Regions from separate parts of the Homo sapiens genome. Here region 2 is reported to be linked to region 1. The links are microRNA targets in miRTarBase. Many come from high-throughput screens and were not tested one by one. Region 1 holds a microRNA gene; the other region holds the end of a gene's coding sequence.

Region 1 (5,358 bases):
CTGGGTTGCCAGTGGGCCGGTCTTTGTTCTCACCGTAATCATGAGCATGGCCCTCTCTGCTGAAGCCTCCATGCCTCTCCACTGCCCTGGGAAGCCAGCCCACCCCTGAGCCTGCTCCCCAGCCCACCCAAGGCACTCACCCCTCCACACCCTCAGACCTTATGTGGTCCCGGCTCTGGCAGATGGTGGTGTCAGGCCCTGGAGCAACACCCCTCTCCCTAGTCCACACAGCTGACCCCCAAGTTCATTTCCCTGGGAGGCTCCTCCTGCCTGCCCCAGCCTGTCCGGGTCCTCCCCGGTGCCCCATGCCCCTCACCCGCTGCAGCACAGTTGCCTGGGCACTGGTCTGACCCCCCACCCATGTTTCCAGCATGCTGGTACCAGTGGGGTGGCACTGAGTGTTTGGGGAAAGAACAAATGAAACTGGGACTGACCCTGAAAACAGAAAATAGGATCACATGGCAAGAGGAACAAAGAGAAAGGCGACTGATGACCATCAGAAAGGGTTGAGGCAGGGCCAGTCCTTGGGGTGGGAGTGGCAGGGGCGAGGGGTGGTGGTTTGGACAGATGATCCAGTGTAGGGCAGGGCCTAAGAGGGGGAGGGGCCCTAAGTGAGGGCCTGAGGGGGACCTGGGGGACTGGAGCACCCAGGGGCAGCTCGGGGTGGTGTGTGGGGGTTGCTGTGTACATGGGGGGGCGTCTGGTATGAGGCTTGGTGTGCACACTGGGTCCCTTGTCCGTTGGGGCTTGGTTTTTGCAGAGTCCCTGTGTGTACACAGGGTTCCGTATGTGAGGGAGGTCCCCTGTGCTCTCAGAGTCAGTGTGAATATGGCATCCCCTGTTTGTGTGTGGGGTTGGTGTCTGAGAAATCTCATATGCAGGTGGGGTTCCCTAGGTGTGCGGATGTCAGCGTGTTCGTGGGTGACTGGCATGGGCAGGACTCGGTGTGCTTGTGGCTTCTGTCTTCCTGAGGAGTCTCCTGTGCTTGGGGGTTGGTGTACATGAGGCACAGGTCATTCGGGGTCCGCATGTGCATGGGGGGGTCACTGCGGCAGAGTCCCCTACAAGTGTGGGCATCGGTGTGAGGGGGTGAGGGAGAAAGATGGGGGACCCCAGGTACTTGTGGGCATCAGTGTGTGTGGTGGGGGTTGGGGTCTGGGGGTCCTCTGTGTGGGCGGGGTCCTCGTCTACGTGTGGGGCGCTGGTGCGGTGGGAGACCGGTGTGTGGTGAGGGGATCCCCTGTGCTCTCGGGGCTCCCAGACCCGGCCCCGCCCGGGGCTCGACGCCGCCCCACCGTCCTCACCTGTCGCACCTGCCTCCCCCAACTCGGCGAGGAGGCCAGAGCTCCGCCCCTGGCGTCGGGCTCGCTCGTTTCCTAGCGACTGAGCCGGAACTTCCGAGTCACCCCGACTTCCGGGGCGAGGGTCAGGGGTCAGGCTGGGAACTTTGAGCCTTGGGTCAACAGTTGGGCTCCCGGGGGTCGGGGTCTTTGAAGTGCGGGCCTCACGGTCTCCGGCGGCGCTGGGCCGGGGTCTCCGGGCGCGCGGCCGCAGGGCACGGGCGGGTCGGGGCGCGGGCCGGGGGCGCGGGCTGGGGCTGGCGGCGGGCGCGGGGCGCAGGAATGCGGGCGCGCCGCGGGTGGGGCTGCCCCGCCCCCAGGTGCTGCCCGGGCAGGCAGGAGGCAGGAGCGACGGGCGGGGCGGGGGCGGGCGCGTGAATCAGGCCGGGCGGGCCGCGGCAGGGAGTGGCTGCCGGACCGACCGGACCGCGAGGCCGCTGGGCGGCGGTCGGCTCCTGCTGCCCCTGTGCCGAGACCCCGCGCACCTGGCCAGGTAGGGCCCCCCTCCCCCGGCCCGAGCGGGGCGGGGCGAGGCGGGGGGCGGGCGCCCCTTGGCGCGGTCCCACTTGGGCTACCCTTGCGCCCACACCTGGGCCGGGGCCGCGCGACCCAGAGAGGGGCGGTGGGAGTGGAGCGCGGCCGCGTGCGCGGGGCCGGGGTGGCGGGGCTGCTCGGACAGGGGGCGCCGCTGTGCGGATATGGACGCGAGCGCCCCCGCACGACGCCGGCCCGAAAAGAGCCGAGGGGGAAGGGGCCCGGGATCCGGGTCGAGCCTGCCCGGCCGTCCCGACTCGCTCCCGCCCTCGCGGCCTAGCTGGAGTCTGGGTGCTGGGCACGGCCTGGACCCTTCCCTGGGGACATCCGCCCGGGCCGCCGTGGACTGGGGTGGCCAGGGTGCGGCCTGGATCCCCGCGTGGCGAGCAGGGCGAGTGATGGGAGTGCTGCCCCTCGCGCCCACGTTCCTGGGCTGGGGTGGGCGGATAGGGCACCCAGCGGCCGCAGCCGCGAGCTCGTAGGGTGCACTGACCCCGTTGGGGGCTGGGGTGCCCACTCCGCAAGTTATCACTGAGCGACTTCCGGTCTGTGAGCCCCGTCCTCCGCACCCCACCTTTCCGCCGCCTAGAGCCTCCGCGCCCTCCTGCGCCCATCGGAACTTGGCACAGGTTCACCCCACTTTGTGTAGGAACTCCAGATCCTTCCATGGGGTCCTCCTTCCAGATACTCAGGAACCCCACTTCCTGCCAGGGTGGAGAGGATGGGGTCCTTGAAGGCCAGCTGAGGGCCCTGACTTCGAGTCAGAGGTCAGGGGTCAGCAAGCAGAAGAGTGGATTCGTGCTGAGTCATTGCCCATGGGTGGGTTCCGCGCCCTCCCTCCCTTGGGCAGACGTTTGGTAGGCAAATGTGTGGGCATGCAGGCCACTGGGGTGCTCCATCTTGGGCTCGGGAGTGGCTGCAGCCCCGTCCATAGCCCAGGAGACACGTACCCATGAAAGGAGACGACGTGAGGAATGAAGCAGTTGGAGGTCTGGGCATCACCCTGTGAGGACGAGGCATGTCTGCTGGGAGGGCTCCTGGCCACGGGGGCTTCCACTGTCTGGATGGTCCCTGCCCCCATTACACACAGCCTGGAGCCTGGACACTGAAATCCAAAGGGACAGTGGGGGTCCTTTCTAGAGTGTCCCCCCAGTGTCGGGAAGTACCCTCAAACAACATCAGCAGGGTTGTTCCCCCTGCCCTGTATGGTCAGACACCGCCCCTACAGACAGGCTGGCAATGGTGAGTGGGCTCCTCGGCCCAGCCAGACAGGCCTACACCTCACCCCCATGTGGTTGGCCTCGATCTGCCCCTGGCACAACCAGAGCGGTGTGCCCTAACCAGCCCCATATGTCAACCATGAGGACGGTGCCCCAACAAAGAAATGTTGGGACAGCTTCTCCCAAGCCGGTTGGCATCTAGGGCTGTTGAGTGGCACCAGGTATTTCCCATGTCTCAACTCCATGTCACCCCCAGGGGCACCAGGCAGGACGGCTGCCTCCTGACCCCAACATTCTCAGCCAAGTGGCTCCGGCTAGCACCCATGTAGTCCAGCTGGCCGGCATCCATCCTGTCAGCGCCCAGGGGCACGCTCCTCTGGGCACCTTCCTAGCCAGGGCCAACATTCAGGAACCTGTGTGCTAGGCGGGGACAGGTGTCCTGCCTCCCTCCCCAACCCGAGGAGCAGTGGGATGGACTGAGCAGTCCCTAGGGCTCTCCTTCCAGGGAGAGGTACCCAGGTAGCTCAGTGACCCTGTGTGCGTGGGCCCTGGGCGCTCCCCATCTGACACCTTTCTGGAGAGGCCAGGCCCCCGCAGGGACCCTTTGGAGAACAGAGTGGGCTGTGGGGCAGCCAAGCATGGATGGTGGTGGCGAGCCCAGGACCTGGAAAGGTCCCTGCTGCCCTGGATGGGGGCTGGTGGGGACAGGACTCTGAGCAAGTGGAGAGCCAGATTTGGGCGATGTGGAGTGCAGGCCCTGCAGGGCCCTGTGGGCACCAAGGGGCTGTGGCCCAGGGAGGTTTTATCTGAGAGGGACAGTGACAAGAAAGAGGTCAAAGGTAGGCCAAGGGAAGGAGGGGGTGCTGGGAGACAGGGACGGAGTCTAGGGATCAGTGTTCCAGGACTGGGCGGTCATAGAATGGGCTGTGGGAGCCCAATTGTGAAACCCTGAGGATGGGGAGGAGGTGTGGCCCGGGACTATGTGTGGGGCTTAAGGTTGCCATTCCAGGAGGAGGGTAGTCACAGCCCTGTTTGCTGCGCTCACCTTGGGCTAGGCGTGGTGTCATGTGGACCCTCAGCTGTGTTGTGCAGTAGAGGTAGGCCAGAGAGGTGCAGTGACCTACCCACAGTCTCCCAGGCAGTCAGAGACGGACACATGGGCAGCATGGGCGGCACCAGCTTGTCCAGTAGGCACAGTGCCAGGGGTCCGTGAATGTCTTAAAATAAGAAAAAAGTGAATATTATAATGATGAATGCAGCCTGGATTGTTTGTCTTTAAGCCAACAGTCATGAAATATTTGGGGGGGGGGGTTCGTTTTATTTTTATTTTTTGTAGTGATGTGGTCTCACTCTGTCACCCAGGCAGGAGTGCAGTGTCACAATCATAATTCACAGCAGCCTCCAACTCCTGGGCTCAAACAATCCTTCTGTCTCAGCTTCCCAAGTGCCTGGGACTATGTGTGCACGCCACCATGCCTGCCTAATGTTTAAAATTTTTTGTAGAGATGGGGTCTTGCTGTGTTGCCCAGGCTGGTTTCAAACTCCTGGCTTCAAGCAGTCCTCCTGCCTCAGCCTCCCAGAGAAAGGAGAGACAGGGCTGGGATACCTGTGCCCCAGCCCTCTGCCAGTGTCCCCTCAGCTAGGGGCATCCTAGGGTCTGGGTTGCTCTCTGTGAGCCTGGTTCGGCTGGTGCCCTGGAAGGCCTCCTGGGCATGGGCTAAACTCCAGCCTACCCAAGTCACTGACGGCCCTTTCCACAGTGTGTCCATGCTCGAGGGTAGGAGTGGTCCCAGTGCCCCCACCCCTAGTCATGTGTCTCCCTGCCCCTCCAGGCCCCTGGCCCCAACATGGCCCGTCGCTCTCAGAGCTCCTCGCAGGGGGACAACCCACTGGCACCCGGGTACCTGCCGCCTCACTACAAAGAGTACTACCGCCTGGCGGTGGATGCACTGGCCGAGGGTGGCTCGGAGGCCTACAGCCGCTTCCTCGCTACCGAGGGGGCACCAGACTTCCTGTGCCCTGAAGAGCTGGAACATGTGAGCCGACACCTTCGGCCTCCGCAGTATGTTACCCGAGAGCCACCTGAAGGCAGCCTTCTCGACGTGGACATGGATGGCTCCTCGGGTACATACTGGCCAGTGAACTCAGACCAGGCCGTGCCTGAGCTTGATTTGGGCTGGCCTCTGACCTTCGGCTTCCAGGGCACCGAGGTGACCACCTTGGTGCAGCCACCGCCCCCCGACAGCCCCAGTATCAAGGATGAG
Region 2 (5,358 bases), not on the chromosome of region 1:
AGGAGCCGGGGTGCGCGCGCTGGTTCTAGTCAGTGGTGTGTCTCATCTTTGTCTTGGCTGGGTGGGAGCACAGGTGAAATTAAGTTTTCCCATTTTATAATGAAAAGGACATCGCAGTGTCTTTTCCTGCACGCACTATTCTCTTCTCTATTCTCTAAAACGTGCTGGGGCTCAGAGCTTAAGCCCCTCAGACGTGGGTTTTTAATCAGTCACTGTGCCTGGCTGGTAGAGATGGGAAGTGATTGCTCTCATTGGTTCCCCTAGGGGTCATGAAAGTTGTGTGGAATGAGCTTCTAAAGCTTTCTTCCAGAGTTCAGACCTGGTGGGGGGCAGATGCGCTGGCTGCTCTGTGACTTCCCCACCCCACTCCCCGTGTAGAGCCACAGACCAGGGGAGCCCTGACTAGGAATGGGGCCCCAGGGAAAGGTTACAGAGTGGGAATGGTGGGGGGGTTGGCTGAATCGCGGCCAGAGATCTGTGGGGGCCAAGTCTGCCTAGGGCCCCAGCAGACAGTCGGGGGCTCCGAGACGTGCAGGGGGCACTTGGATCTACTTGAAGGGGCCTTTTTTGCCTGTGGGGCAGGAGGTGCACTGATTTGAAAAGGTTCTTCCAGTTGGCCTTGGGACCAGAACTGCTTCCGCCCTGGGATGTGCCATCGCGGAATTCTTTGTGGAGGACCCGGTGTCTTCCTGCCTCTCCGAATCACTGCACTCAGGGCTTATGGGGAGGGAGCAGAGACGGCACTCGCGCCACTTTCCTTACTAGGAGGGGGGTTTCTAAGTCTGGTCCTTCAACCAAGGGACTGACAACTTAGGGGAGCTTTCCCTGCAACTCAGGAGCAGGAAGGGAGTGGTGGGAACTATGTATCCAAACACGTTTCAGCGTCAGGGTCACTTTGTTTTTCCCATTCATCTGTCCAAAGGCAAAACAACGAGTGGATGAGAAACCCAGCCTGGGAGCCGTGAAGCTGCAGGAGGCCCCCTCGGCTGCCTCCCAGATGAAGCGAACCGGAGCGATCAAGCCTCGGGCTGTCAAAGTGGAGGAGAGTAAGGCCTGACAGTGCCTGGCTGCCACCTCGCCTCTCCCTACTGAGGACGGTGCCGCCATGCGGCCTCGACACAGCCGACACTCGGGAGCCTCACCAGATCCACCGTCCAAATGCGTGGCCCAGACTGAGAGACCTCCCTCCTCTCCACTCCCGAAAGCTCCGTTGTCAACCAGCTTGCACCCGTGGATATATGGCATTGACCCGCTTGCTTTGATACGAAACAAAAAAGCAGACGACTCCTTCATCCCATCTGCTCCTACCGTGACTGTGGAGTGACGCCTCCTGTGCAGTGCAGATTTGCCCTCCCTGCCTCCTCCCTGTCCTGCCGCGCAGCCAGGGCGCCTTCTCAGCAGTGCTTCCGGCCCAGCCGCCCATCCCTAGGCACAGTGATTTGGCAGCAGGGTCATTTTACTTTGAGGCTTTTTGTTTTAAAATGTAGCCAAGGTTTTTACAAAGGGGAAAGGAAAAGAAAACAAAAACGCAAGCTCCATGTGTATAGCTGAACTTTTATATGTTTCTTGCCAGCCCCTCCGCTCCCTTCCATCTCTAGCCTCTGTCCTGTTTAGTTTGATACGTCACTGCAGTACCTTAAGAGGTGACTCTTAAGAATGCATCCCCTCCTGATTCCTCAGCTGGTTCACCCTTGAGGTTATTTGCAAAAAGAAAAGGAGGTTCTTGAGGGCACCGATTGCGAGCATTCTGGTGCCTGGCTCCCCGCCTGGGAAGCGATGGGGTGCTCAGAGCAGCAGGCAGGTTGGGGGAGGGGGGGGGTCATAGTTGGGTTCCAGCTCCTGGCTTGATGAGCCCAGGGCGCTTACAGGCAGCCCATGAAGTTGATGACAGTTTTAGCATGAGAATCACACAGGGTCCCTGTCCTGGGCTCCTCTAAAGCCAGTGGATGTGCTGGGCACCAGAGACAAATCATGGAGATGGCTGCTGGTGGCTCCCAGGTTGGCCCAGATGGGGTGAGCTGACATACCACAGGCCCATCCCAGGCCCCGTGGGCTCTGCTTCTGGGGCTCCATACCCTGCCCTGCAGGGGTGCTGTGTTTTTCACACATTTCTTTCCCTGAAGCCTTCTGTAACCTGTCATTTTCCTTCCTTCCTCTTCCGGAGCCTGCTGCTTTCTCTGGACCTGTCTCCACCTCCCACACAGCTCATCGTGAACACCACTTGGTGATGGAGGGAGTGGACCCGTGTGTGGTCCCCAAGTGAGGCCACTGGGAGTTTGTCCTTTTCCTCCTTTGCTTCACTCCCAGCAGCAGACCCAGGTTGTCAGGACAGGAGGGCCTGAGCTAAGCAGTAGGCATCAGTCTCGTTTGTCTTCAGACGGCGGGGGCAGGTCCAGGGTGAGGCTGGGTGGAGGGCTGACCAAGGTCCAAAGGGCCTGCGCAGCCTCCGGGAGGGCAGCTTCTCCAGCCAGAGGCTTGTGTGAGCCATCGTGTGCTGGGCTTGTTTTTAAGTAAGAAACAAGGAAATCACTCCAGATTCTGTCATTCCAAGGAAAGGGAAGGGGACAGTTCAGGTTTCTCAGCTGTTCTTAGGGGTCACTGAGCGTCTACCTCCTCCTCCAGAGGAGGCTGGCTCAGAACACCTAGAGGAGGGGGCCGGGGATGCACCCCCCACCAGAGGCTGCCTTCAGCGTCTCACGGGTGCAGGACAGCGCTCAGGCTTGGGCTCTAAGCTCTGTGTCTAGTGTAGAACATGGGGAAGGAGCATCTTAGGAACTGCTGAAGTAACTTCTTACTGCTCTCACAATTCTAAGGAAGCGGGAGAACGGCCTCCTACCAACAGCGCCCACCCCAGAGCTGCCTGGGAAAGGGCAGTTTTACTGAAAGGTGCTTTACTGTTCACCTGCATCTTTCAGCAGCTCCCCTCCTGCCCTCACCTGGTCTTTTCCCTCTTTATCCCAAGCCTTTATGCTTGAGTCCCTTCCCCAGGGGCTGCCCACCCGACAGTTCCAGGCATTCCCTACCTGAGCTTCTTGTCTGCTTTTCCTTCTCCCACTGCAAGCGGCTGCTTGTGGGGCCTGGGATGAGCCCTCTCTGTCCCCACCGGCCCTCCTTGCCAAGCCATTCCTGGGTGAGTTCAGGCCTGCGGGAGCCACACATTCATCTCCACCTGGACACTTGAGCCGCATGGCCAGACCCCTCCCACCTGATGCGGTGGTGCGTGTGATTTGTCAAAAGAAAGCCTTCTGGATGCTGTTAAGATGTACCCTTCAGGTGAACCTGGTATCAGACCCACAGTACTTGCTGTTTGAGAAAAAATAAAAACAAAAAGGTCACCTGTTCTCCAGCCCTTTTCTCTTACCTGGTATTTCCTTCCTTTCTCCTCCCCCACCCCAAATAAAAAAACAAAAAACACTAGAATTTATTTATATGTATTGATGTTGTAGGTCTAGGTGAAAAAAAAAGAAGTAAATGTTTCACTGCTCTATTTATATATAATGTCTGAATTAATTCTGTGCAGGAAAGGCCAGGAAATTGCATGTGAAGTTCGGTGCAGTCACCACCTGTGTGTGACCTGAGCTGCAGTCTCTTCGCTGAGATGCAGGTTTTAAATGAGACTTGGGGGGCTGAGGGCAGGCCTCAGGCCTCCCAGCGCCCCAACCCCTCCTTGGTCTAATGAAATGCAGTTCTTAGTGCAGAGATGTTTTAAGGTGCAATATATCTCTTCCTTTCCCGTGGTTTTAGAGCCAAGCTCAAGGTAGTAGGACGTAGGGTCTTATTTTGTTTTCAAACCCCCATCCTCAGAGCGCAGATACATGCAGAGGCTTCTGCCAGGATACCACGGGGCCTTAGTGGGAACAGGTGGAGACCAGCACTTCCCTTTCCTGCTGCTGAGGTAGGGATTGGGGGGTCAGAACCCACTCACTTTTGCCTGTTAAAGTTGCCCTCCTGACGCTGGCAGCTCTGCCTTGGTCACTGGGGATGCGGCTCGTTGCTCAGCCACCAGTGGCCTTGCGGTATTGTCCACCATCCACTAGAGTGGGATGAAGTCCAGAGTGTGGGTATACATCTCAGATGCCCATCTACCCACTGGGGACTTCAATGCCAGCTGCATTTGGTTTGGTTTTCTTAACTGTTGGCTTCTCCCCACAGCGTTTTTTGTTTTTTTTTAAACATTCATATTGTTTTCAAACTTGGAATTCATAGACACTCTGGCTCTAGGTTCCTTAAGGGGGAAAACAAAAGATGACTTTATTTCACATTCAAGAAAATCAGTTCAGTTCCAAAGCTGTGGTCCTTCCAGCCACTTCTAGGGACACTGGGGAACCTTGTTAAACGTTGACATCAGTGCTCTCCAGCCGTGCTGTCACCCTCCTATCTTCTGGATCTGCCTTCGCGATGGTCAGTGACAGCTTCTGGAAGCTGAGCACACACAGGTGCACAGCCATGCTGTGGTCTGGCCTGCTACGGCAGCATGGCAGCTCTGGTGGAGCCTTCTCCCTTGCCATTTGGTTCCCCTGTGCCAAGTAGCTGCAGGCTGCCCCTCAAATCTTCATTTGTCCCTTTTCACTTCCTGCAGAACAAGCCTGGGTTAGAGGGTCTGCTGGAAATGGCCTTTGAAGACCAAGGATACCAGGATGTGTGCACTCTGTCGTGTTCTGTGATGAATGGGAAACGTAGGCTTCCAGAAAGCCAGCTCTCTTCTGAAATGTGACGGACCTAAGCAGGAAGTCATCCAGGACAGGAGTGGCTCAGTGTTGGGGATGGACGCTGTCGCCCAGCCATGCTCCACCAGGGCCACCAATGTGTAGTTGGCTGGTGGTCTTCGGGCATGTGAGACCTGCTCTTCACTGTTTCCACCCCACTTGGTGGCCTCCAGGATGGTAGTGGCACCCTCAGAGCCCCATCTTCAGCATGTTCTGAAGCCTCAGAGTGGAAATTCCTGCTAAGGCTCTGTGTGGACGCCTTTCTCCCGTGATCTAAAGGGGACACTGTACTCAAGCTTTTGACCTCATGCCTTGTGTAGTAAAAAAGGATTTGGGGGTTTTGTTTGGTTCCTGAGAGGGTTGTGTTTTGTTTTTGTTTCCTTTTGTTTATGTTTTGGCCTTTCCTCTTTGTCTTTCCATGTAGACCAGATATTTGAAAGGGCAGACGATGGCTAGAGGTGTAATGTGCAGCTTGTTTATACGGTATTTTGGGAAACTTACCTTGGATGGGAAATCGAATCGTGGATTCACCAGGCCGGTGCTGGCACACTCACCCTCGCCCTTTCCCTCCGGTTCAGTACCTATTGTTTCTCCTTTCAAATATGTGATTGTACTAGCTCTTTCCATATGAAAGAATTCTCCTTATTTAAAT

The links. The annotated mature microRNA hsa-miR-4664-5p reads UGGGGUGCCCACUCCGCAAGUU and lies in region 1 at 2,380-2,401, shown strand. An mRNA with a match to its seed (bases 2 to 7 or 8) in the 3' UTR can be bound and repressed. Matches are read on the target gene's strand: a 7mer-m8 pairs with bases 2 to 8, a 7mer-A1 pairs with bases 2 to 7 and ends in A, and an 8mer does both.
Region 2: the mRNA of PRRC2B is a reported target of hsa-miR-4664-5p. Seed matches in the 3' UTR shown: 7mer-m8 at 2,664-2,670, 7mer-A1 at 2,847-2,853, 7mer-A1 at 3,389-3,395 and 7mer-A1 at 4,858-4,864.

Annotation. Positions count from the first base shown.
Region 1 is chr8:143,730,166-143,735,523 of GRCh38, reverse strand. It overlaps MIR4664 (microRNA 4664), which reads left to right and starts at 2,371; the gene lies at 2,371-2,441. It overlaps FAM83H (family with sequence similarity 83 member H), which reads left to right and starts at 1,745. Exons shown (of 5, transcript NM_198488.5): 1 at 1,745-1,833; 2 at 4,927-5,358. The coding sequence starts at 4,942. IQANK1 (IQ motif and ankyrin repeat containing 1) reads right to left here and starts at 1,385. Exons shown (of 14, transcript NM_001381874.1): 1 at 1,305-1,385. RefSeq lists an enhancer at 2,511-2,805 and a silencer at 2,682-2,892.
Region 2 is chr9:131,494,818-131,500,175 of GRCh38, forward strand. It overlaps PRRC2B (proline rich coiled-coil 2B), which reads left to right. Exons shown (of 32, transcript NM_013318.4): 32 at 923-5,358. The coding sequence ends at 1,057. It also overlaps the pseudogene LOC124902290. Among named protein-coding and RNA genes, the nearest start is that of POMT1, 5.4 kb to the right of the region's middle. RefSeq lists an enhancer at 5,199-5,358.